2 separate regions of the Homo sapiens genome follow, and region 2 is linked to region 1. Evidence: fine-mapped expression QTL. A gene starts in region 1. The other region holds a variant in brackets. All regions are shown on one strand. Distances are from middle to middle. Region 1 holds the start of SGK3 (serum/glucocorticoid regulated kinase family member 3). Region 2 overlaps CSPP1 (centrosome and spindle pole associated protein 1).

What was found. PIP is the estimated chance that this variant, and not a neighbour inherited with it, causes the effect.
Region 2: its variant is fine-mapped to the expression of SGK3 in whole blood (INTERVAL, PIP 0.93).

What each region holds. Positions count from the first base shown.
Region 1 is chr8:66,700,956-66,716,263 of GRCh38, forward strand. It overlaps SGK3 (serum/glucocorticoid regulated kinase family member 3), which reads left to right and starts at 11,826. Exons shown (of 17, transcript NM_001033578.3): 1 at 11,826-11,878. All of the region lies in intron 3 of C8orf44-SGK3 (C8orf44-SGK3 readthrough), which reads left to right. RefSeq lists a silencer at 11,535-12,004.
Region 2 is chr8:67,154,986-67,164,575 of GRCh38, forward strand. It overlaps CSPP1 (centrosome and spindle pole associated protein 1), which reads left to right. Exons shown (of 31, transcript NM_001382391.1): 20 at 3,462-3,611; 21 at 4,006-4,152; 22 at 6,826-6,930; 23 at 8,747-8,813; 24 at 9,406-9,523. Among named protein-coding and RNA genes, the nearest start is that of CSPP1, 95 kb to the left of the region's middle. The variant GA/G (reference allele first, on the strand shown) is at 5,390.

The DNA.
Region 1 (15,308 bases):
GAATGGCGTGAACCCGGAAGGCGGAGCTTGCAGTGAGCCGAGATCGCGCCACTGCACTCCAGCCTGGATGACAGAGCAAGACTCCATCTCAAAAAAAAAAAAAATCTTGATTTAACACTTTGTGATGCAGTCATTAGAAAGTCTAATTTTAAGTTTAGTTATTCTAATACTTCACTTTAATGGCTGTCACAGGTGAGAAGATATTTTGAAGAGATATTTCATAAAGATATTTAGATTTAAATGGAAGAGATGCATTGTTATTGGCTATATCTATTAAAGTACTCATTTTCTTTTTCAGTCCCATCATCCAGTTCTGTAAAGGTTTTTGTCGAAGTTTGACTAGTAAATTTCCATTCTCTCTGCTGTCAGTCAGTAATTCCTTCCTTCCTTCCTTCTTTCCTTCCTTCCTTCCCTCCTTCCTTCCTTCCCTCCTTCCCTCCCTCCCTCCCTCCTTCCCTCCCTCCTTCCTCTCTCAATCTGTCTCTTTCTTTCTCTTTAATAGAGACGGGGTCTCGCTGTGTTGCCCAGGCTGGTCTCAAACTCCTGCGCTCAAGTGATCCCCCACTACTCAGCCTCCCAAAGTGCTGGGATTACAGGCATGAGCCACTGTGCCCAGCCTCAGTCAGTAATTCTTGCAAACGAATTTAAAGACACTGCCTTTTATTTTTTCATCAAATAAATTTTAAGACCCACTGAAATGCATTAACTGGAAAATGTTTAAACAAGTAGAAAATTGTGTTTCAAAAATTCCAGTGCAATATATATATTAGATAGAGTTTTAATAGGACACGAACACACACACACACACAGTTTCCCATGCAACAAAGTCACATACTGATGGAAATATTTCCAAGACACTCTCTCCAAACTGTTTATTTCAAAACCCATCTACACTAAAGGGAGTGGGAAGGAAGGAAGTTAATCTCTCACTCATTGCTAAAACTTTACCTTAAAAGAAAATGTGCAGCCGAGCACGGTGGCTCACATCTGTAATCCCAGCACTTTGGGAGGCTGAGGCGGGCAGATCACCTGAGGTCAGGAGTTCGAGACCAGCCTGGCCAACATGGGGAAACACTATCTCTATTAAAAACACTAAATAAGCCAGGCAGGGTAGCGCATGCCTGTAATCTTAGCTACTTGGGAGGCTGAGGGCAGGAGAATCACTTGAACCCAGGAGGCAGAGGTTGCAGTGAGCCAAGATCACGCCATTGCACTCCAGCCTGGGCAACAGGAGCAAAACTCTGTCTCAAAAAAGAAAAAGAAAAAGAAAATATGTATGTTTAATATCCTCTACATAGAATACAACCCACAGGGATTATCACAGAAAAGGTAAAGAAATCTGAATCACTTGTATTTTTTGTCAGCGAAAATGCATAATTCTTCTTCATAGTCAAATACTCTTTTAAGTAATAACAACCAGAGCTTGTGTAAAGCTGATTTTGGTAGTAGATATTATACTAAGAGATTTTTATATACATATGTATCAACTCACTTCATCCCCAGAACAACTCAATGCAGTAGATACTATTATCTCCATTTCACAGATGAAGAAACTGAACCTCAGAGAGTTAAATGATCTTCCTGGGATTACATGGCTGGTGATGGGAGAACTGTGGTCAGAACCTAGGCAGTGTGTGTCCAGGATCTGTGCTTTTGACCTCGAGTATGTTGAATACTTTGCTAGAAAATAAAAAGTTTTCACAATCACTCCCCATCTCAGTATAAGGTATTATGTAGATTCTATTGAAGGGATTTAGTTTTACAAAATCGACCACATCAATGATGTCCTATACTACATACAACTTCAATAGACTGATTGTGGATGAACTAGGGCACCCAGTCAACCCTTTTAATTGTGAAAAGTCTGTCCTTCTCAGGTTACCTCACACAGCACACCTCTGACATGACTGACAAAGGACTGTATGAGCATGCCAGTGTCACATTTATGTTAAATAATAAAGCTTAATTTCTTTCTTTCTTTCTTTTTAGACAGGGTTTCACTCTGTCACCCAGGCTGGAGTGCAATGGTGCGATCTTGGCCCACTGCAACCTCCGTTTCCCAGACTCAAGCTATCTTCCCACCTCAGCATTCCGAGTAGCTGGGATTACAGATGCACACCACCATGCCCAGCTAAGTTTTATATTTTTGTAGAGACGGTGTATCATCATGTTGCCCAAGTTGGTCTTGAACTCCTGAGCTCAAGTGATCCACCCGCCTTAGCCTCCCAAAGTGCTGGGATTTCAGGCATGAGCCAACCTGGTCTGTTTCTTACTTTTTAGAGAAAACAAATGGATGTTGTAATATTTTCTTTCTGTTCTTTCTGAACTTGTAGTAGATTGCCTTGAGGACCCTTTGGATGTCCAGTCTCCACTTTCAATACCATTCGCCTTAGCAAATATGAAGAAATTTAAAATTATCCAGGAGAAATACAGTTTCAGTAAAACAAATGCAGAGGAATTACATAGGATAATCAAAACAACTTCTTAAATATAATTTGAGAAATAAAAGGAGGCTGAGTTTAGATTTTAAAATCTGATAATAATGAAATGTGATTTTTTTGAAGTGTAATTTTAAACGTAAGATTAATACAAGGCTGCATTATAAGAGTGTCGGCCGGGCGCGGTGGCTCACGCCTGTAATCCCAGCACTTTGGGAGGCCGAGGCGGGTGGATCATGAGGTCAGGAGATCGAGACCATCCTGGCTAACAAGGTGAAACCCCGTCTCTACTAAAAATACAAAAAATTAGCCGGGCGCGGTGGCGGGCGCCTGTAGTCCCAGCTACTCGGGAGGCTGAGGCAGGAGAATGGCGTGAATCCGGGAAGCGGAGCTTGCAGTGAGCCGAGATTGCGCCACTGCAGTCCGCAGTCCGGCCTGGGCGACAGAGCGAGACTCCGTCTCAAAAAAAAAAAAAAAAAAAAAAGAGTGTCAACTGGCCAGGTGCGGTGGCTCACGTCTGTACCCCCAGCATTTTGGGAGGCCAAGGTAGGCGGATCACCTGAGGTCAGGAGTTTGAGGCCAGCCTGGCCACCATAGTGAAACCCTGCGTCTATTAAAAATACAAAAATTAGCTGGATATGGTGGCAGGTGCCTGTATTCCCAGCTACTTGCGAGGCTGAGGCAGGAGAATTGCTTGAACCCAGGAGGTGGAGGTTGAAGTGAGCTGAGATCGCACCACTGCACTCCATGATACTAAGGACTCACTTGATCCTTTATAGAGTTCCATGTCTCATACTGGGCATCTCCTCTAAAATCTAAAGAAAACATGGAGAATTTGGGAAAAACTCCTATGAGAGTCATAAAATATTTTTTAAAATGACAGAAAAAGTTAAAAGAGCTGGGGTTGTTTATCTTAGAAAACTCAGGGGAATTTAAGAGTCTTCTTGCGTATGAAGAGTTATAATTCCTTAAGGTCTACTTAAGTCTTTGACACATCTGGCTGGGCCAGACACAGATTCCTTAGAGAATTTGTTAAGGAAATAACAGCAATGCACCTCTTTATGCCAGAAGCTATTAAGCCCTTGCATTTGAAATAGGTTCAATCATTAATTGCACATAATAGAAGTAAATAACTGAGTCACCAAATGAACAGTGTTTAAGAAAAGCTATTATTCCCCACTGATAAGCAACTAAAATAATAGTTATCTTCAAAGTCCACCTAGCAGGTTTAGTCCACCTACCCTAATATGATCCCCTGGACGTAGAAACTGCTGACACGACTTATGTAAATAAATTATTGTCAACTATTAACAGACTTTTATTTTATGTACATAATAGACTAAATGAGATACAGAAAAAAAGAGAAAAATGAATGATTTATATTTTATTCTTGACATTCATAAAAACAAGATTGGAAGACAATGAGATTTCCCTAATAGGAAAGTATAATAATATTATTTTAGATAATTAATGGTCTTAGGGAAATTTAAAATAATTTCTAGCTACTTTTTATCAAAAAGCTGATGCTAGCAGTTTAAGTGTTCTGATCTCCTAACACTTCCCCTTGATTTTTCTCATGAGTCTAATACAGAAAATGAGAAAGTCCTGTGATCTGAAAAGCCTTATATTTGATCCTAATGTAGTCTTGTTTTAAAATAGAGTTTCCTACCTGTTATGAAACATACTTGAACTTCAAGCATTTCAGTTTTGAGTTTGAATTGGCTAATTTGGCCCAAGAAATGACGTTCAGCTTTGGGCCTCCCACCTATACCCTACCCCACAAAATGAACACATGCTGAACCCTTTTCAAATCATAGAAACAAGTTAATTCTGCTCTGTGCTAAAGAGGCGTTAATTGCTCTCAATTTCAGTTCCCATGTGTATCTGAGGGTTTTTTTTTTTTTTTTTGAGAAGGAGTCTCACTCTGTCACCCAGGCTGGAGTGCAGTGGCGCGATCTCAGCTCACTGCAAGCTCCACCTCCCGAGTTCACACCATTCTCCTGGCTCAGCCTCCCAAGTACCTGGGACTACAGGCGCCTGCCACCACGCCCGGCTAATTTTTGTATTTTTAGTAAAGACGGGGTTTCACTGTGTTAGCCAGGATGGTCTTGATCTCCTGACCTCGTGATCCGCCCGCCTCGGCCTCCCAAAGTGCTGGGATTACAGGCATGAGCCACCGTGCCTGGCTAATTTTTGTATTTTTAGTAGAGACGGGGTTTCACTGTGTTGGCCAGGATGGTCTTGATCTCCTGACCTCGTGATCTGCCCGCCTCAGCCTCCCAAAGTGCTGGGATTACAGGCGTGAGCCACCGCGCCCGGCCCTTTTTTTTTTTTTTTTTTTTTTTTTTTTGAGACAGAGGCTTGCTCTGTCCCCCAAGTTGGAGTGCAGTGGCGCAATCTTGACTCACTGCAACCGCCCCCTCCCGGGTTCAAGTGATTCTCTTGCCTTAGCCTCCCAAGTAGCTGGGATTACAGGTGCACCATCACGCTCAGCTAATTTTTGTATTTTTAGTAGAGACAGGGTTTCACTATGTTGGCCAGGCTGGTCTCGAACTCCTGACCTCAAGTGATCCTCTCGCCTTGGCCTCCCAAAGTGCTGGGATTACAGGTATGAGCCACTGCACCTGGCCAACTGAGGGGTTTTTTTGTTTTTGTTTTTCAGACGGAGTTTTGCTCTTGTTGCCCAGGCTGGAGTGCAATGGCTCAATCTCAGCTCACTGCAACCTCCGCCTCCCGGGTTCAAGCGATTTTCCTGTCTCAGCCTCCCAAGTAGCTGGGATTACAGGCACATGCCACCATGCCGACTAATTTTTGTACTTTTTTTTTTTTTTTTTGAGACGGAGTCTTGCTTTGTCTCCCAGGCTGGGGTGCAGTGGCGCAATCTCGGCTCACTGCAAGCTCCACCTCCCGGGTTCACGCCATTCTCCTGCCTCAGCCTCCCGAGTAGCTGGGACTACAGGCGCCTGCCACGGCGCCCGACTAATTTTTTTGTATTTTTTAGTAGAGACGGGGTTTCACCGTGGTCTCGATCTCCTGACCTTGTGATCCACCTGCCTTGGCCTCCCAAAGTGCTGGGATTAGAGGCGTGAGCCACCACGCCCAGCCTAATTTTTGTATTTTTAGTAGAGACGGGGTTTCATCATATTGGTCAGGCTGGTCTCAAACTCCTGACCTCAGGTGATCCGCCTGCCATGACCTCCCAAAGTGCTGGGATTACAGGTGTAAGCCAGCGTGCTCGGCCACTGAGGGTTTTTTTGGTTGTTTTTTTTTGTTTTGTTTTTTGTTTTGAGATGGAGTCTCGCTCTGTTGCCCAGGCTGGAGTGCAGTGGCACGATCTTGGCTTACTGCAAGCTCCACCTCCCAGGTTCACGCCATTCTCCTGCCTCAGCCTCAAGAGTAGCTGGAACTACAGGTGCCCGCCACCACACCCGGCTAATTTTTTTGTATTTTTAGTAGAGACGGGGTTTCACCATGTTAGCCAGGATGGTCTCAATCTCCTGACCTCGTGATCCGCCCACCTAGGCCTCCCACAGTGCTGGGATTAAGGCGTGAGCCACCGTGCCCGGCCAGTTGTTTTTAAACAGAGGGTCTCCCTCTGTTGCCCATGCTGGACTGCAGTGGGGCAATCATAGCTCACTACAGGCTTGACCTCCTAAGCTTAAGTGATCCTCCCACCTCAGCCTCCCAAGTAGTTGGGACTACAGGTGTGCACCACCATACTCAGCTAATTTTTTTTTATAGAGACAAGGGGAGGGGTCTCACTTTGGTACCCAGGATGGTCTCAAACTCCTAGGATTAATGGATCCTCCCATGTCGGCCTCCCAAACTGCTGGGATTATAGGCGTAAGCCACCACTACTGGCCTGAGTTTTTCTAACTGTATCTTGGGTTGCTTTATGTTTTATTAAATTGTTTTGCTCAGAAAATTTAATAAATTAGTCAGCTGGGCATGGTGGCACACACCAGTAATCCCAGCACTTTGGGAGGCAAAGGTAGGAGGATGACTTGAGGCCAGCGGTTTGAGACCAGCCTGGGCAACATAGGGAGACCCTGTCTCTACAAAAATAAAAAATTAGCCAGGCGTGTTGGTGTGCACCTGTGGTGCTACTTGGGAGGCTGAGGTGGGAGGAGTGCTTGAGCCTTGGAGGTTGAGGCTGCAGTGAGCCATGGTTGTGTCACTGCACTCCAACCTGCGCAACAGAGTGAGACCCTGTCTCTAAAAAAAAAAGTGAGACCCAGTCAAAAAAAAAAAAAAAAAAGAGAGAGAGAGAGAGAAATTTAAAAAAAAAAAAAAGAAAATTTAGGCCAGGCTCGGTGGCTCACACCTGTAATCTCAACACTTCAGGAAGCTGAGGTGGGCGGATGAGTTGAGGTCAGGAGTTCAAGATCAGCCTGGCCAATATGGTGAAATCCTGTCTCCACTAAAAATACAAAAATTAGCCAGGTGTGGTGGTGTGTGCTTGTAGTCCCAGCTACCTGGGAGGCTGAGGCAGGAGAATTGCTTGAATCCAGGAGATGGAGGCTGCAGTGAGCCGAGATCACACCACTGCACTCCAGCCTGGGTGACACAGCAAAATTCCATCTCAAAAAAAAAAAAAAAAGAAAATTTAATAAATTAGTCACTTTTGTTTCCCCATATTTTTACCCATTTTTACAGCAAGGTTTTCCTTTTAATTATTACAATCTGAGCCAATTCATAGTTAGGATTATGTTTTTAACTATCTTCTCCACAAAAATGGTTTTCTTTTATTTGATACTGTGGGATGTTGTGATTAGAATGTCAGCTGATAAACATAGCTAGAAACTATAGCAACAACTTATGGTGTCTGACCCACTTAAGCATGTGAGTCTTCAGCAGAATGAGGGAAAAGATACCCTAAAAGCAATGCAAATAATATGAATCAAAACCATCCTTTGCGAGGCTGGGCGAGGTGGCTCACACCTGTAATCCTAGCATTTTTCAAGGCCGAGATAGGAAGATCACTTGATGCCAGGAGTTCAAGACCAGCCTGGGCAATATAGTGGGACCCTGACTCCAAAAAATTTTAAAAATTTGTTGAGGTGGTGGCGCAAGCCTGTAGTTCCAACAACTCAGGAGGTGGGAGGATGGCTTGAAAGCAGGGAGTCGAGGCTGCAGTGAGCCGAGCTCACGCCACTGCACTCCAGCCTGGTGGGTGACAGAATGAAATCCTGTCTCAAAAAACAAAACAAACCAAAAAAAGTATTTTGCTTTTGTAAGCATATAGTTGGTAGGATTATTCTTACCTCTCTAGACTTAATATTTTATCTGCTATAAAACAAGTATTCCTTTTTTTTTTTTTTTTTTTTGCTGGAGTTTCGCTTTGTTGCCCAGGCTGGAGTGCAGTGGTGAGATCTCGGCTCACTGCAACCTCCGCCTCCCGGGTTCAAGCGATTCTCCTGCCTCAGCCTCCTGAGTAGCTGGGGTTACAGGCACCCACCACCACATCTGGCTAATTTTGTATTTTAGTAGCTACAAGATTTCACCATGTTGGCAGGGCTGGTCTTGAACTCCTGACCTCAGGTGATCTGCCTGCCTCAGCCTCCCAAAGTGCTGGGATTACAGGCATGAGCCACGGTGCCTGGCAAAAAACAAGCATTCTAATGAATACCAGCCCTCACTAATGGAAGTGGTATTTCTTGTATTTTTATGCCCCTCACTTCTTCCAAGGTTCTGATAAAAGAACTACAAATAATAGAGGGCTTTATTATGATATAAAAAAGTAATAATGCTTCCACATAAGGCACCATTTTAGAGAAAAGGTTTCCCATTTTGAATAGTGGAGGATGAAAACCAAGCATTCATTTCATTGGAATATATGATCTAAAATAATCGTAATAACCACATTATGTGGCTGGGTAGTTGGGGTTTTTTTGTTTGTTTTTTGAGACGGAATCTCACACTGTCGCCCGGGGCTGGAGTGCAATGGCGTGATCTCAGCTCACTGCTACCTCCACCTCCCAGGTTCAAGTGATTCTCCTGCCTCAGCCTCCCAAGTAGCTGGGATTACAGGTGCCCACCACCACACCTGGCTAATTTTTTGTATTTTTAGTAGACACGGGGTTTCATTATGTTGGCCAGGCTGATCTCAAACTCCTGACCTCGTGATCCATCCGGCTTGACCTCCCAAAGTGCTGGGATTACAGGCGTGAGCCACCGCCAAAATTTCTAAAATCTGGCCATTTTAATACTATTACAAATAAAACATATATAATATTGGCATTTTAATATATGTTTTAGAGCTAATAATGATGAAGATAGCAGTCACTTGGTATTATGTTCCAGGCATTCTACTAAATTCATTTGATCCTCATAGCAATTTCATGAGATTAGCACTATTATCTCCGTTTTACTGAAGAGGAAAAAGCACTATTATCCCCAGGTTACTGATGAAACCGGTGCTCAGAGAAGTGAAACAATTTGCCCAAAGTAGGAAGTGGCAAACCAGGAGTTAAACCTGGGTCTGTCCAATTCCAAAGCTTGTGTTCAAAATCTCTACACTATAGATAAAACAGATGAACAAAATATTTGCTCTATCTGAATGAACAGAATCATATTTTCAAAGAAAGTATTGGGACCCATAGTCTGATAAAAAGCTCTATTTTTAAAATTTATTTACATGAAATATTTCATAAAGGTATAAACATCAGCTAGACATTTAGCTGAACATTCAACAACTTTTTTTTTTACAGTCTAAACTTGGAAACATAACAGAAAATGGGGATATAACCTATATCTCTATCAATAGGTGAACACAATTAATCAAAGTGATCAGCCTTAGCCAGGTGCGGTGGCTGAAGCCTGTAATCCCAGCACTTTGGGAGGCTGAAGCAGGTGGATCATTTGAGGTCAGGAGTTCAAGACCAGCCTGGCCAACATGGTGAAACCCTGTCTCTACTAAAAATACAAAAATTAGCCGGGCGTGGTGGCGCACACTTGTAATCCCAGCTACTGGGGAGGCTGAGGCAGGAGAATTGCTTGAGCCTGGGAGGCAGAGGTTGCGGTCAGCCGAGATCACGCCACTGCACTCCAGTCTGGGTGACAGAGTGAGACCCTGTCTCAAAAAAAAAAAAAAAAACCAAAACAACAACAACAACAACAACAAAGTGATCAGCCTTAAAATTTGCCCTTAAAACCAATTTTAGACTGGGCATGGTGGCTCACGCCTGTAATCCCAGCACTTTGGGAGGCCAAGGCGGGTGGCTCACCTGAGGTCAGGCGTTCAAGACCATCCTGGCCAACATGGCGAAAATCTGTCTCTACTAAAGATACAAAACATTAGCTGGGCGTGGTGGCAGGCACCTGTAATCACAGCTACTCGGGAGGCTGACGCAGGAGAATCGCTTGAAACCGGAAGTTGGAGGAGGTTGGAATGACCTGAGATTGTGCCATTGCACTCCAGCCTGGGCAACAAAAGTGAGACTCCATCTCAAAAAAAAAAAAAAAAAAAAAAACTAATTTAATTACAGTGAAAAAGTCCTTAGTAGTTTGTGAATATATTTACCTCCTCTAGCTTTTTGCAAAATCTAGCTATTAAATTGCAGCTCTCAGATTGTAAAGGCAAAATGCCTAACATGTTGTCTGTTGATCAAATGAACCCAGCCTGGGCAACACAGTGAGACCGTCTCGTCTCAAAAAAAAAAAGAAAATACATAAAATGTTTGTGGGAGGTGATCTCTGTGTGTGTGTGTGTGTGTGTGTGTGTGTGTGTGTGTGTGTGTGTTCTTCACAATAGGACAAATTTATCTAGAAATGTAATGGTTCCCAGATGTTTATTTTTTTAAAAAGTCAAGATGTGGTGATAGCCAGGTATTTGTCTCTAAAGTGAGAATGATGTTATTCCACTTGGAGTTTATTGACACAGAACTTCCTTTTGTCTGAGAAATCTTCAGCACTGTGAATATGGCTTTAATTAAGAGATACACTCATCACTTGTTGATTTTGTTACAAGGGAAGAACTCCTCTAATGTATGTGGATTGCTTTGTGGACCACAGTAAAACATATAAAGGACCACCGGCAATGTATTGTTTTGTATCTACTGCATTCTTATATTCATTTCTGAAAACTACTGTTTAGAAAGTTCTGTAGGATTACTGAAGTACAAAAAGTATTTGGATTCACAATCCACTTTTTAAAGAGAGGCCACATTGTGGTTATTGACATTAAAAATGAATGTCCTAACCCATACTTGTGGGGCTAAATCTTTGAATATCATTTTAAAACATGAGGAAATGTCTTCTGAATTTAGGGAAGTCACACATAGATCCCAGTTCCTCTAATAACCTTTGGCAGTTTATTTGTTCATAGATTTGTGGCAAATTCTCTGGAATCATATGATCTAAAGTACAAATCATTGTCTCAAAATCTAAGGCATGATATGCACATGGGAATCTTTAAGTACTTGTCTGAGTCTATCTTCAAGTGATATCTGATAAGACCTAAATTACAGTAGTGTTGTGGGACGAAGAAAACAACCCACTCTACTTCAAAATCTTAACCACTTGACTCCACATCCATTGAACCATGTAATTCTTAGTTCTCCACTCAGCTTCTCTATCTGTTAAAAGAGATAAACAGATCTAAAACGCAGCTTCTGTAATTCAAGAATGAGTAATAAGGAGCTGTAAAGTGTGCACTCAGCTGACTTGGAGATTAATGGGAATAAAAAAAAGAGTCAGTAGATCTAAAAAGATGTGTGGAAAGGAAATTTCTCTGCACACAGGATCTGCCAATTTGTGAAAGTTCTCGACTGTTTATAAACACAAGGGCCGTAACTCTGCTAATGACAAAAGTGGAAAACTGTCCAAATAATGCTAAATGAATCACAGTTGTTCTCAATTATTTGGATATTTAATTCACTCCTCTGAGTTTCCAGTTTACACCAAGCCAACCCCCCCAACACCACGGGCCCACCCGGGGGGTCCTGATCCCTGCACACACCAGGTCATCTCTGTTGGGCCCCGGCGCTCTGGCCCGCGCCGGTCTTGGGCCCCAGGGTAGCGGCCACTGCGGGCGGAGCAGAGGGAAACACCAGAGTCTGTGACTCCAGACAGGACCCACTGTGTCCTCTTGAACTTTGCACAGCGCGTGACGGGGGCAGACGGTGCACCGTGGCCCGGCCTTTCGCGGGGGTCCTCGGGGAAGAGAGAGGAGCGCGGGTTTCCTCGGAGGCCTGAGCGGGACGCAGCCTGCAGCCCCTCCCCGCACGGGCTGCCCCCGGCCCGCCGCTCGCGCCGCTCTGCTGGGATCCGGCGCCTTCCCCGGCTGTCCTCGGCCTCCCGCGCGCTCCGCGGGAGGAGCCGCCAGCGGCCGTGACGCGTCAAGGAGGAAACGCCGGCGCCCGGCGGCCCTGCCGGGAAGGAGGAAGCGCAGTGCGTTCGGCTCCGCGCCCGCCGCGCCGGGAGCAGCACCGCGGGGCCAGGTAGGTGCGGGGCCGGCGGGAGGGTCCGCGCGCCCGGGACTCCGACGGCGGCCCGGGGCGGGAGGAGACGGGGCGGGGCGAGGGCTGCCCGGGCCTCGGCCGCTGCCTGTCCTCGGAAAAAGCCGTACCTCCGCCCAGCCCCCGGCTCCCGGAGAGTTTGTGGTCTTTGTTTCCACGAGGTGAATTCAGATCCTGCCTCGAGATTCCTAAACGCCCAAGGGGCGTCGGTGGCTGGACCTTGTTAACCCCCACGCAGCCGCCGAGCCTGGAGGAACTGGGAACGCCGAGCAGGGAGACCCTATCTGAGGTCGAAAGTGGGTGCAGGTCACCTGCGAGGGTCGGGGAGGGGGCAGCCGCCAGAGTGGGGTGGATGGAATCGTTTAACCTGTTGTCAGCGGATCTGTAGTAAAAGACCTTAATACGTTGCGTCTTTTAAGTTCTCTGTAATTTGAACCCTTACGTCTCTTCAAGTGAATCTGGCCCTATTAATTCTCACAGTTTTAGCTTTGGAATGTACCCACAAGAAGTGCTTTGAGATTTTTAGATTCTGTCATTTTTAGTCATCGTTACTTGGAAAGAGAAAAGAGAAAGGAATCATCTCTTGAAACTTAAAACGCTTTCATTGAGTTGTGCACAGTGACTTCTGAACCATGAGTAGAATTTCAGTCCTGCACCAGAGACTACTTAGTGTGCACTTGGGTGCAAAATAAATACAGAGCACTGTAATTTCTAAATCTTTTGTCAAAGTGAAAAATAGACTGTTGTGTATTTTGATTCTCTCCCTTCTCACCAGATTGAGACTTCACCCAGCCAATCTGGGAGGTGCCTTTTTTTATTTACCAAACACTTACATAGCCCTTACTATGCGCTGGGCTCTTTCTAAGTTCTTTATAAATATTAAATCAAATTCTTAACTTATCATATTATAGCGGTTCTAGCAATGAAGAGGCTATCCATACTTTAGTTCCCCAAATGTCATTGGAAGAGCTGTAAACATTAGAGGAAGTTTTAGGCATGTTTTAGCACCGGGTGTGCCTTCTGGTCCCCTTGGCTACCACTTCTGTAAGACAAGCCACCACCCCAGCATTTCCCTGGGGTAAGGGAGCCTGGAGCTCCTGGGAATGCGACCTGTTCAAAGCAGATGTTGGCCAGAACCTGAATGACTTGTGTAACATGGTCTCTTTCAACTGCCGTTGTGCCCATCGGCTAACTCTGGAGACACCAGAACTTCCCCTTCTTTAACTGCCACTGCATGGAGCCTACTTTTGTTTTTGAAAAGAGCTTTGTTCCTGATCTGTTCGACACTGTTTATATGACATTATTTATATGACATAGTTTAGATATGAGGGTCAGATTGAACTTGAAATGTACTATAAAATAGAACATTTTTGTTTGCACACATCAACATAACAAATAACGTTTTGTAATTTTACTGCTATTTGCTCTTGGAAACATTGAATTGGTAGGTCAGCCTCATAGGTGTACCTTTTGTGATTTGCAGATATGCAGAGAATATTTTTTCAGAATAACATGCCCTCTTCAAATGTGCACCATTAGAGACCCAATGTGGTGACTAAGATAGACATGATTCTTGTTATTGTGACTATGAATGTAATGTCAAAATCTGCACATCAGACTAGCTTTCTGACTCCCTCACTCCCTTTCTGTGCCCCCCTCCCTTATCTCTCTCTCATATATTTAACTTTTCAGAGAGATGATTAAGTGAGCCGATAAGCCTTATTTAATAGGATTATGAAGTGTCTCTTGAAGCAAGAAGGCTCATGTTCCTCTGATATATTAATAATTTATGACACAACAGGCATTAGTGTCATTTGTGAATTCAGTTTAGTCGGATGACCCCTAGCATTTTCATGGCTTACAAAGTGCTTCCAGACATACTCCTTTACCTTTCAGAGAGATCTTGTATGGTTGATCTCTTAATTACTTTTTATTACCTGTTTTTACAGATGAAGAAACTGAGGCATGGAAATGTTAAAGTGCTTTAGCCTGGATTGCACAGCAGGTGAGAGGCAGAGCTTGAATGGAGGGCAGGTGTGTGGACAGTGCCTGGCACGTGCAGGCCTGTAATAAACATCTGTGGAATGAATGACTCCAAATGGCTTCAGATATCTTGCTCTTTCAAAACATGTCTCTCAAAATACCGTAGTAATTGATTTATGCCTGAGAGATTTCCAGGCCTAATCCAATGCCTCTCTCATTTCAGACAGTATCTAATACAGCACATTTTCTACAAAAAGGATGGGAATCCCTTTGGACTTATTTCTTAAGATTTGCCACCTCTGGTTTTTGAAAAAGAAAATAGGTTGGGTATTTTTTTCATCCTACCTTTTTTCTCTAGTTTTGAGAGTTTAGAACGGACACATGGTATTTATGTTTATGTTGACAGCTTGCTTTCTTTCTTTCTTTCTTTGTTTTTTTTTTGAGACAGAGTCTTGCTCTGTTGCCCAGGCTGGAGTGCAATGGCGCAGCCTAGGCTCACTGCAACCTCCGCCTCCCGGGTTCAAGCGATTCTCCTGCCTCAGCCTCCCGAGTAGCTGGGGCTACAGGTGCATGCCCCCATACCTGGCTAATTTTTGTGTTTTTAGTAGAGACAGGGTTTCACCATGTTGGCCAGGCTATTATCAAACCCCTGACATGATCAGCCTGCCTTGGCCTCCCAAAGTGTTGGGATTACAGGCGTGAGCCACCGTGCCTGGCCACAGCTTTCTTATCTTTCTAAACTACTTAGATTTATGATCAAGTTCAAACTCAATGATCATAGGTATTGTAAATATTTTTGAAATAAAACTATGTGTTTTATTGAAATGTTGCAATGAATTTAGCATAAAGGGTCTTTAAAAACACACACAAAATTCCTCAACTATTTATATGCTTTAAGTATAGCCCTTGGTACCTAAAGTATGTGATTTCCAGGTGGATAACCTTCAATTAGAGGGGATAATATGGCCATTACCTGGCAGGAGGAATTGAGAAGAGTTATCAGGGAGATATGAGAGATGGGATGGCCTTTCCCATGAGGTGTATTAGGCAGTAAGAAACCCTTAATGAAGCCAGACTGAGTCATCTGCCTGTCAACGTTCTTCTGTGTGGGAGTGGAATAAAATACCTTTGAAACCTGTCTTGTTTCAGAAACCACTTTACCTTTTCCAGTTCTCATGTTTTCTCTTTTTGAAAAAAATTAATGTAAATTACTGACTAAACTGCTGATTCATGAAACTCAACTTATGTAACATGTTATTCCTGACAGATGTAACAGCTCCCATATTATTTTAAGCGACTCAGTGTCTCTGTTTTCCTTTACCTTTTCCATTTCTCATGGTGGAGACTTTGCTCTCATTTCACTCTCCCCTGCCCAGTATCATGGAGAAAAGTGGTAAATCTAAGAGGTGCTACTTCCGCATCTTGTAGT
Region 2 (9,590 bases), 450 kb after region 1:
TCACAGTTTACAATTATTTGCCCCATTTATGTACATAAGTAAATGGCATTTAACATAGTAGAACTGCCCAGACTATTCGCAAAGGAAGACACTTGAACATCCAGTGTTTATGAAGCAAACAGACTTACTCCCATACTGGGGGTACCCTGGGCTGAGTCCTAGGGATGGAGCCTGAGATGAATGTGAGATACTTGCTCATGAGGGACTCACAGTTTCTTCTTTCCCTACCTCCCTCCCCTTCACACTCACACTTAGATACCAGTGTCAGATTAATCTTATGGCCTGGTTAATCCTCCTTTGATATGACTTTTCACCTGCTATTCTTCTTTACTCAAAATCTGGTGGTAGCTTTTCTTTGCCTACAGAAATTATCTCAACTCTTGAACCTAACATTTAAGGTTTTATAATCTAATTCCAAACTCTTAAATAGATGCCCTCAAACATATCTTCTTTTTAATCCTAATTATTCTTGACTCTTAAATAAGGCAGTGACGTAATGGATATAGCCTTTAAGGATGATTGATATTAGGCTGGGTGTGGTGGCTCACACCTCTAATGCCAGCACTTTGGGAGGCCAAGGTGGGCAGATCTCTTGAGCACAGGAGTTTGAGACTAGCCTGGGCAACATGATGAAACCCCATTTCTACAAAAAATTAGCCAGGCATTGTAGTGTGTGCCTGTCACCCCAGCTACTCGGGAGGCTGAGGTGGGAGGATTGCTTGAGCCCAGGAGGCAAAGGTTGCAGTGAGCCAAGATATGCCACTTTATTCTTGCCTGGGTGACAGAGTGAAAAAAGGATGATTGATGTGACATCACTGTTTAAGATACAATAATAGAGGATTAAAAAGAGTGGAAGCAGGGATATTTTACTAGTGTGGGTGACAGTGGAAATGGGTGGAAAGTGCTTTTTAAGGTTCAGCAGAAACAATATAGATATTAAATGTGAGAAACTGGTATCAGAGGTCCCAATATTGTGCACTCAAGTCAGGTAGCAGCAAGTTGAGGGTTCAGAGTCCCTGTTGAACGTAAAGGACCGTGTGGTATATTGACCATGACAGCAGGTCATAATTTAAGTACCTCCTCTAATGCTTAGCAGTTCTTATCATGGTCTAAGGTAGAATTCAGCCAAAAAACAATCTTACAATTGTATAGACTTTTATTGTTTTTGAGATACTTTTACATATAGTGTCTCATCAAACCTCAGATTTCTCTGAGAGAGGTTTTATTATCTCTGTTTAATAACATACAACTAATACACAGACTAACAGGCTTGCCCAGGGTGTCACAGCTAGCAAATTGTGAGGCCATTGCTTGAACCCAAGTCTCCAGACTTCAAGTGTAATATCTATGGATATCAGACTTCTATTTATAGGATTCACTAGGAAGTCTTTACCTCTAGAAAAAGTATGGTAATGGGGGAAGCTTTAACTATTTTAGTTTCAACCTTCAGTTCTTCCACCCTGTCAACCCTCAATTTATCTGTGAATGGATTGCTTTCAGATGATGATTTTTTAATTTTTCTTTCAGCAGCCTCTTCAAAATCTCTTCTCCCACCTCAAACAAAACCTAATATGTAATTCTAAGAAAATGTAAAATAGATCAATGGTATTTATTATTACTGTCAACAATATAATGTCAGATAAAAAGTATCCAAAACTTTTGTTAAAAAAAATATTATGAAATGTTCAAATCTGTGCACAAAGATGGTAAGAAATTAGCCTGAGGTCTGTACAAGTAAGTTCCACAGTTAGCTCAAGTTAATGCATCAGAAGTCTTCATGCTGTTAAAATTTGGTGAATATTAATAACACTTGTGAATGTTTGACATTTTTAACCACAGCTTTAAAAATAGTTAACAAATAAAATATTTTTAAGAACTCTGAAGCATTTTTGTGTTATGTAATTGGAAAACCATGACAGGAAGATAGCTTTCCCTGCTTTCCAGACCAGAAACCTGTTGAACAACTGTCTAGCATTCCTGTTGGCACTGAGCTTTGGATCCATTAGGTGTATGATCCATTAATAGCTTAAAAATTGGTATTCTTTGATTTTGATGGAAAAGTGACCCCTGTGAATGTGATTTTTTTTTCCATGGAGTAGGAAGAAGGGGGAATTGAGTATTGAATATGAAATTTTGATGAATTATAAATGATGTTTTCTTTAGGCATATTGGACTTGAAGAAGTGATTGCATGCAAATTGCTAACTAAAAGTACTAAATATTAGGCTTATGCATATTTAATAATGTTGTGAGAAAGAAGTGTTGGAAAAAGCCCTAGTATATAAAATCATAGGATGTGTTAGAAGATTAAAGTTCTTTTTTTTTTTTAAAGACAGAGTCTCATTCTGTCGCCCAGGCTGGAGTGCAGTGGTGCAATCTCGGCTCACTGCAACCTCTGCCTCCTGGGTTCAAGTGATTCTCCTGTCTCAGCCTCCTGAGTAGCTGGGATTACAGGCACACACCACCACGCCTGGCTAATTTTTGTATTTTTAGTAGAGACGGGGTTACACCATGTTGGCCAGGCTGGTTTCGAACTCCTGACCTCAGGTGAGCCACCGCGCCTGGCCAGATTAAAGTTCTTGTAGCTCAAAAATTAATAGCACTAGATAGAGCAACCTTGAAGCTAGAGGAAGTACAGACAAGAAAAACAAAAATATGCTGAGTAGTATGATCCATACCTAAGGATAACTAAAATCTGTTGATAACTTTAAACCAGAGACATGAATACCTGGTTCCCATGCTGCTGTTCTTCCCTGCCTCATTCATCGGGCGTGTGGACTATCTATCTCTTAGGGCCTTCTTTCCTTCAAATCTTAGGCTCTAGAGTACTCAACGCTGCAGACTCCAGGTAGCATTCAAGATGAAACTTAATTGTGAGTCCTTGTGACCTAAATCCTCCTCCACCTAATAGTTTTAGTTCTTTCTCCATTAACCTCTATAGTTAGGAAATAACAAAGGGCATTTGGGAGAAATGGCTCTTGCATTAAAAAATGATTGAATACTAAAATACTAATTTCACTGTTATTTTAGAATAATCAATTCCAAGAATTTTGACACATAATAGCAGCAATCACTATAGAATAATATAATCATGAATTAGTTGCTTAGAACCTTCTATATAGGAGGACTTTTATGTTCCTTACATTGTTTCACTTTAATTCTTTAAGCACTCCTTTGAGATGTAGGCGTTAATAACTGTGTTTACCAGAAAAAAGAGAAAACTGAGGACAAGCAAGTTTCTTAAGGTCACACGGTCTGTTTGGTGGAACTGGAATTTAACTCAAAGCTTTTAACAGTACAGTAAATCATGTAGCCTCCCTGAAAATACAGGAGACTGAAAAATTTAGGAACATGCAAAAAGAGGGTACAAGTGTTGAGTTTATATACTATCAGGAAAAAAATAAGTGATATTCTAACTTTTCAATAGTTTTACAAGATAAATAACTAAGTTTAATTCTTTAGATTGAGGAAAAGAAACAAAGAGAGGAAGCAGAGCGAGAGAGACTGAGAATTGCAGAAGAAAAAGAAGAAAGACGGCTTGCAGAACAGAGGGCACGAATTCAGCAGGAGTATGAAGAGGAACAGGAAAAGAAAAGAGAGAAAGAGGAGGAGGTACATCTTTTTTCCCTATTGTATTTTACTACTTAGTCTGAAGGTGAAATCTTTGACTTGAAAAGGTATTTCTTACTTATAAAGGAGAACAGTGTTGGAGTACATTTAGAAAATATCAGATCAATATACATTCTTTGGATATTATTTTATTAAGGTGAAAGGGTAATTTAAGAAAGGAGATAAGTGATGACTTTAAAAATATAGATGTAGGCTGACTGAAGACTTTATAAAAGATGCCTAATATTTTATTTTTAAGCAGACAACTTATGTTAAAGAACACCATATCATGTCATCTATATCTTTATCTCATTTTATCAGATAAATAAGGCAGCACATTTTTGAATGTACTATAGAAGGAATATATGGAATGCATATTTCTCTTTTTATTTTAAAGCAAAGGCTAAAAAATGAAGAGCATATTCGGTTAGCTGAAGAAAGACAAAAAGAAGCAGAAAGAAAGAAGAAAGAAGAAGAAGAAAAATATAACCTGCAACTTCAGCACTACTGTGAAAGAGACAATTTGATTGGGGAAGAAACAAAGGTAAGTTTCAGACAAAAATGTCAATCAAACCCATAGTTTAACTCACTTTCACTGTGAGAGTTGTACAGTTGTTAGAAAAGGGGAGAAAGAGGAGGAGGTGCTTTTGTTCCTGTTCTGTCTTACTGTTTAGTCTGGGCACAATGTACTGAACTTTCTGTAGGAGGTACTGTCACTGTGCTTTGTTGGTATTTTCTGTCCATTGAAGGTAATGGATTTACTTACTTGAGCCATTCTTAGTCTCATTCCCATGGTGTATGCGGTGCCACCCAAGAATATGGTCTGCAGACAGTACAACATGAACTGTTTGTTATGGTTCATGACAAGACTAATACAGAAAGTGAGAGTGGTTTATATATATATATATATGTATTCTTTTTTTTTTTTTTTTTTTTTTTTTTTTTGAGACATAATCTCGCTCTGTTGCCCAGGCTCTGGAGTGCAGTGGCACAATTTTGGCTCACTGCACCTCCACTTCCTGGGTTCAAGCAGTTCTCCTGCCTCAGCCTCTCAAGTAGCTGGGACTACAGGCACACGCCATCATGCCCAGCTAATTTTTGTATTTTTAGCAGAGACGGGGTTTCACCATGTTGGCCAGACTGGTCTCAAACTCCTGACCTCAGATGATCCACCCACCTCTGCCTCCCAGAGTGCTGAGATTACAGGAGTGAGCCACCACGCCCGGCCTTCTCTCTCTTTCTTTCTTTCTTTCTTTCTTTTTCTTTCTTTCTTTCTTTCTTTCTTTCTTTCTTTCTTTCTTTCTTTCTTTCTTTCTTTCTTTCTTTCTTTCCTTTCCTTCCTTCCTTCCTTCCTTCCTTCCTTCTTTCTTTTCTTTTCTTTTCTTTTCTTTTCTTTTCTTTTCTTTTCTTTTCTTTTCTTTTCTTTTCTTTTCTTTTCTTTTTCTTTTTCTTTTTCTTTCTTTTTGTTTTAAGAGACCAGGTCTTGCTATGTTGCCCAGGCTGATCTCAAATTTTTGGGCTCAAGTTATCCTCCTGCCTCAGCCTCCCAAAGTGGTGGGATTGCAGGTGTGAGCCACCACACCCTGCCTCACAGATAATTTTTTATTGTAAAATTCATCATTTAAGAATTTAAGGTCGAGGCAGGCGGATCACTTGAGGCCAGGAGATCGAGACCAGCCTGGGCAACATGGTGAAACCCCGTCTCTATAACAAATACAAAAATTAGCTGGGCGTGGTGGCAGGCACCTGTAGTCCCAGCTACTCAGGAGGCTGAGGCAAGA[GA/G]ATCGCCTGAACTTGGGAGGCGGAGGTTGCAGTGAGCCGTGACTGCACTGTGGCACTCCAGCCTGGGTGACAGAGCGAGACTCCATCTCAAAAAAAAAAAAAAAAGAATTAAACAGAATTGTTAGTTTCCCATAATTATATTTCTTGTAATTTCTTATGTTTTTTAAAAATGCTATTTTTTAAGGAATATATACTTTTATGATATTATAATTTAATTGTAAAGTACCATAAAGTTTTAAATCAGCTTTATCCCATTTAATGCATTTGCCTTTCTGAAATTAACATTGCTATCATTTTCTTTCATTTATGTATGTCTGATATATATATATATTTTTGTCTATTCCTTCAGTTTTACCTTTGTGTCACCATATTTTTTATTTAGTTAGCTTCTATCTTTAGTTTGTTGAATTTTTAAAATCCTAATCTGAGTTATAATCTTTTTATTTTTATTTATTTATTTATTTATTTAGAAATAGAGACTCGCTTTGTTGCCCAGGCTGGAGTGCAGTGGTGCAATCTCGGCTCACTGCAACTTCCGCCTCCCAGGTTCAAGTGATTCTCCTGCCCTAGCCTCCCCAGTAGCTGGAATTACAGGTGCAAACTACCACACCTGGCTAATTTTTATTAGAGACGGGGTTTCACCATGTTGGCCAGGCTGGTCTTGAACTCCTGTCCTCAGGTGACCTGCCTGCTTGGCCTCCCAAAGTGCTGGGATTATAGACATGAGCCACTGCACCTGGCCTAATCTTTTAAAATAGGGATATCTAAATCCATTTATGTTTATCAAAACTAATGTCTTTGCATTAATTGCATTTCTGACTTTTTTGTGTTTTTCTTCCTTGATAGCTTTTTGGTCTTTTGTTATGTGTACTATGGCTTGTTTGCTCCATCCTCTACAGGGATTTAGAATGTCTATGTTGTATTTACAATGAAGTTTTTGGACTATAAGGTTTAATACACTATAAACTGAAATATAGAACCCCATCGTGATCTTGAAAAGTCCCTCATCCATGATGCTGTTAGTGATTAGATCTAGATTTTCGAGGTTGATTTGTATTGCTTTCCAGAAGGATTTTGTTATTTAATTTTTTTGTATTGTCATGGTACCTTTTTATTATTAAAGATGATTCTTTAGTTTTGTTATATTTTTTCTTTTTTGTTGCTTTACTTGTGTTTGTTGATTTTTTAAATCCTAATCTGACAGTCATACTGTTTTAATAAAGATGTCTAAATCCATTTATGTTTATCATAACCAACATGTTTGATCTTATGTAATTGAATTTCTGACTTTTGTAGAAAGCATTTTATTAAATAAAAGCAATAACAATCTAAACTTCTTAGATGACTTTCTTAACTATAAGGGGTGTGTGTGTGTGTATATATGTGTGTGAGTGTGATGAAGCAAATATGCTCTTAAATTTTTTAAATTTTTCAGCACATGAGACAGCCTTCTCCTATAGTTCCTGCTCTTCAGAACAAAATTGCAAGCAAACTCCAAAGACCTCCTTCAGTTGACAGCATCATACGTTCCTTTATTCATGTATGTACTTTTGTTTTTATTTGTTCATCCTAGCTCAGTTATTTTGGATTGGGGGATCGAATGAAATTTTCTTTTTCATTATATTTGGATAGGTTAAATTTTTTCAGATCTGAAATATAGGTGATATCTACAGTAATTTGCCTGCTGCTTCGATTGTAACTGATAGTGCTTGGTGCCCTAAAGTTTCTTTTGACAAACCATAATTTAGCCCCTCAAGCTAGGTAGCTGTAGATATGCTCATTGAGTCTGTTATACTTTAGATTGAACTACAAGGAAAAGAGAACATGGAAAATGTTCTAAGATTGATCCTCAAGGTGATGCTTGAAGAATATGCAGGAATTTGCCTTGAAGAGGAGGGTGAGGGATTATCAGCTTGTGGAAAGTCGTGGAGAGCAATGTAAGCTCATGGCACATGTGGAGAATCTTCCATGGTGTGGTCTGGCCTGATGATGCTTGTGCATTAAGGCAGCAGAGGAGGTGGAGGTCAGAACATGTGTGGCATGCTGTACGGAGTGCTAAGAGCTTTGATTTTGTTCCATAGGCTGGTAGATTCCAGACAGGCTAATTAGCAGAAGGTAAAGAAATGTGTCAGAAGAACATGTTTCTGAATTCCACCCTTTGAGATTCTGATTTAGTAGGTCTGTGGTAGATAATGCATAGGAATTCATTGTAATATTTAAGTAGGGGAATGACATGGCCACTTTTGTATAATGTTTTTTTAGGCAATGGTGTGGAGATAAGTTTTGGAGGTGGGGCAAGACTAAACATGGAGATAAGATGCTTTTGCACAAGTCCAGATGTGAGACTGAGGACCCAAACAAAGGCAGTGACACCAAGAACTGTGAAGGTGTGACAGCTTTATGATACATTTAAGAGACATAGTAGTACTATTTGTTGAGTGTGTGGTGGGTAGGAGTCTATGATAACTTTCAAGTTTTTGGTGAGGGTTACATAGAGTAGGCAGTTGAAAATATGAATTGTGGCAGCAGAATGAGTTCTGGACTCGATTTGTAGTTCTGGACGCCATCAACATATTGGTGCTTGTTAAATTAGTGCCATTGTCTACGATGAGTGTCTACAAGAGAAGTAAAGGAGGCTGAGAATAGAATACTGGGAAATTACCAACATTTGAGAAGCAGTGAAAGGAATGGACAGAGGGTGAGAGAGGATGGCAGTGACGGCAGTTGCGACTGGCCAAGTAAAATGCCCACTGAATGTGTCACTTGGGGGTCACTTGATGACTTTGGTGAAGGCAGTATTGTTGGAGTGATGGGTGTGAAAGCAAAGGCCATAGCTGTGTGTTGAGAAGTGAATGAGAGTAGGCAGTAGACCCAAAAGTACTGCATTTACTGTTCTTTAAGGAAGCTCAGCTGTGAAGGGAAGGACAGAATGGACAGGAGACAGTGAGCAATGAAGGATGAGGTAAAATTTTTTTTTAAGAAAGGGAGAGGTTTTTACACATAGGCTGAGAGGAAGGTGCTTGGAGAGAGGAAGTTGGAAAAAAGAATAATCGGAGGAGAATGGGAGTCAATTATCAGATACAGAGTACAGGTGAAGGGATTCTGTTTGGGTAGAGGCAAGGACACTTCCATCGTGATGAGAAGGAAGAATAGATTTACATGGTAGATACACTCTAGAATAGATATAAAAGGTGGATATACTCTACCTTGGGTAGAGTATAGCTGGGTAAGTTTTGGAGGTAGGATAGTGTGGAGTTTGGTTTCCTTTACATATAAATACTTCAAAAAATTACTCCCTTCAAGCTTCTGTGTAGGGAAGACATACTGAACATGTCTTTGTCATTATTGTTGAACAGGAAAGTTCCATGTCCAGGGCACAGTCACCCCCGGTACCTGCCAGGAAAAATCAGCTCCGTGCAGAAGGTAGAGTTAACTACTAAACCTGTTACCTAGAGTATTTCTCTTTTTAACTTTTCATTTTGAAATAATTATAAACTCATAGAAAATTGCAGAAACAGTATAGAGCGGTTAGGTGCTGTGTACCCATTCTCCAACTTTCCCCTGGGGTAACATCTTAGATAGTATAGTCTCATAGCCAGGAAGTGGACATTGATGTGGTCCACAGACCATCAGATTTTACCAGTTTTTACATGCATTTATGTATGTGTATTTCTGTGCATTTTTATCATGCACAGTTTGTGCGACTACCACTGCAATCAAGATACAGAACTGTTCCATCACCGTAAAGGAACTTCCTTGGGCCTCTCCTTTATAGTTGCACTCCCCCAAGAATATCGCTTCTGAAATTCCTATATTATAAAAAATGTACTTGTGGGTCCTAATGACGTTCACAATTATGATCCATGTATGTGTGTATATATAAAATGTTAAAATATCTTTCATAAAATTGTCTCTCTGAGCAGTTTCACTTTATTATTAGTCAGGTTGTGTTTTAATGTTTAGTCTTTTGTTCTTATTCCTGTCTTGTGTTTTACTTATCAATGGGAATTTGCAGAGGAGAAAAAAAATGTAATTATGGAATTATCAGAAATGAGAAAACAGCTTCGTAGTGAAGAGAGGCGTCTACAAGAGCGATTGCTACACATGGACAGTGATGATGAAATTCCTATCAGGCAAGTTTAGAATTGCAGTTTTTGTGTTCGCTTGAGTTCTTTTATCTTACTTCACCTATCCAGTAAT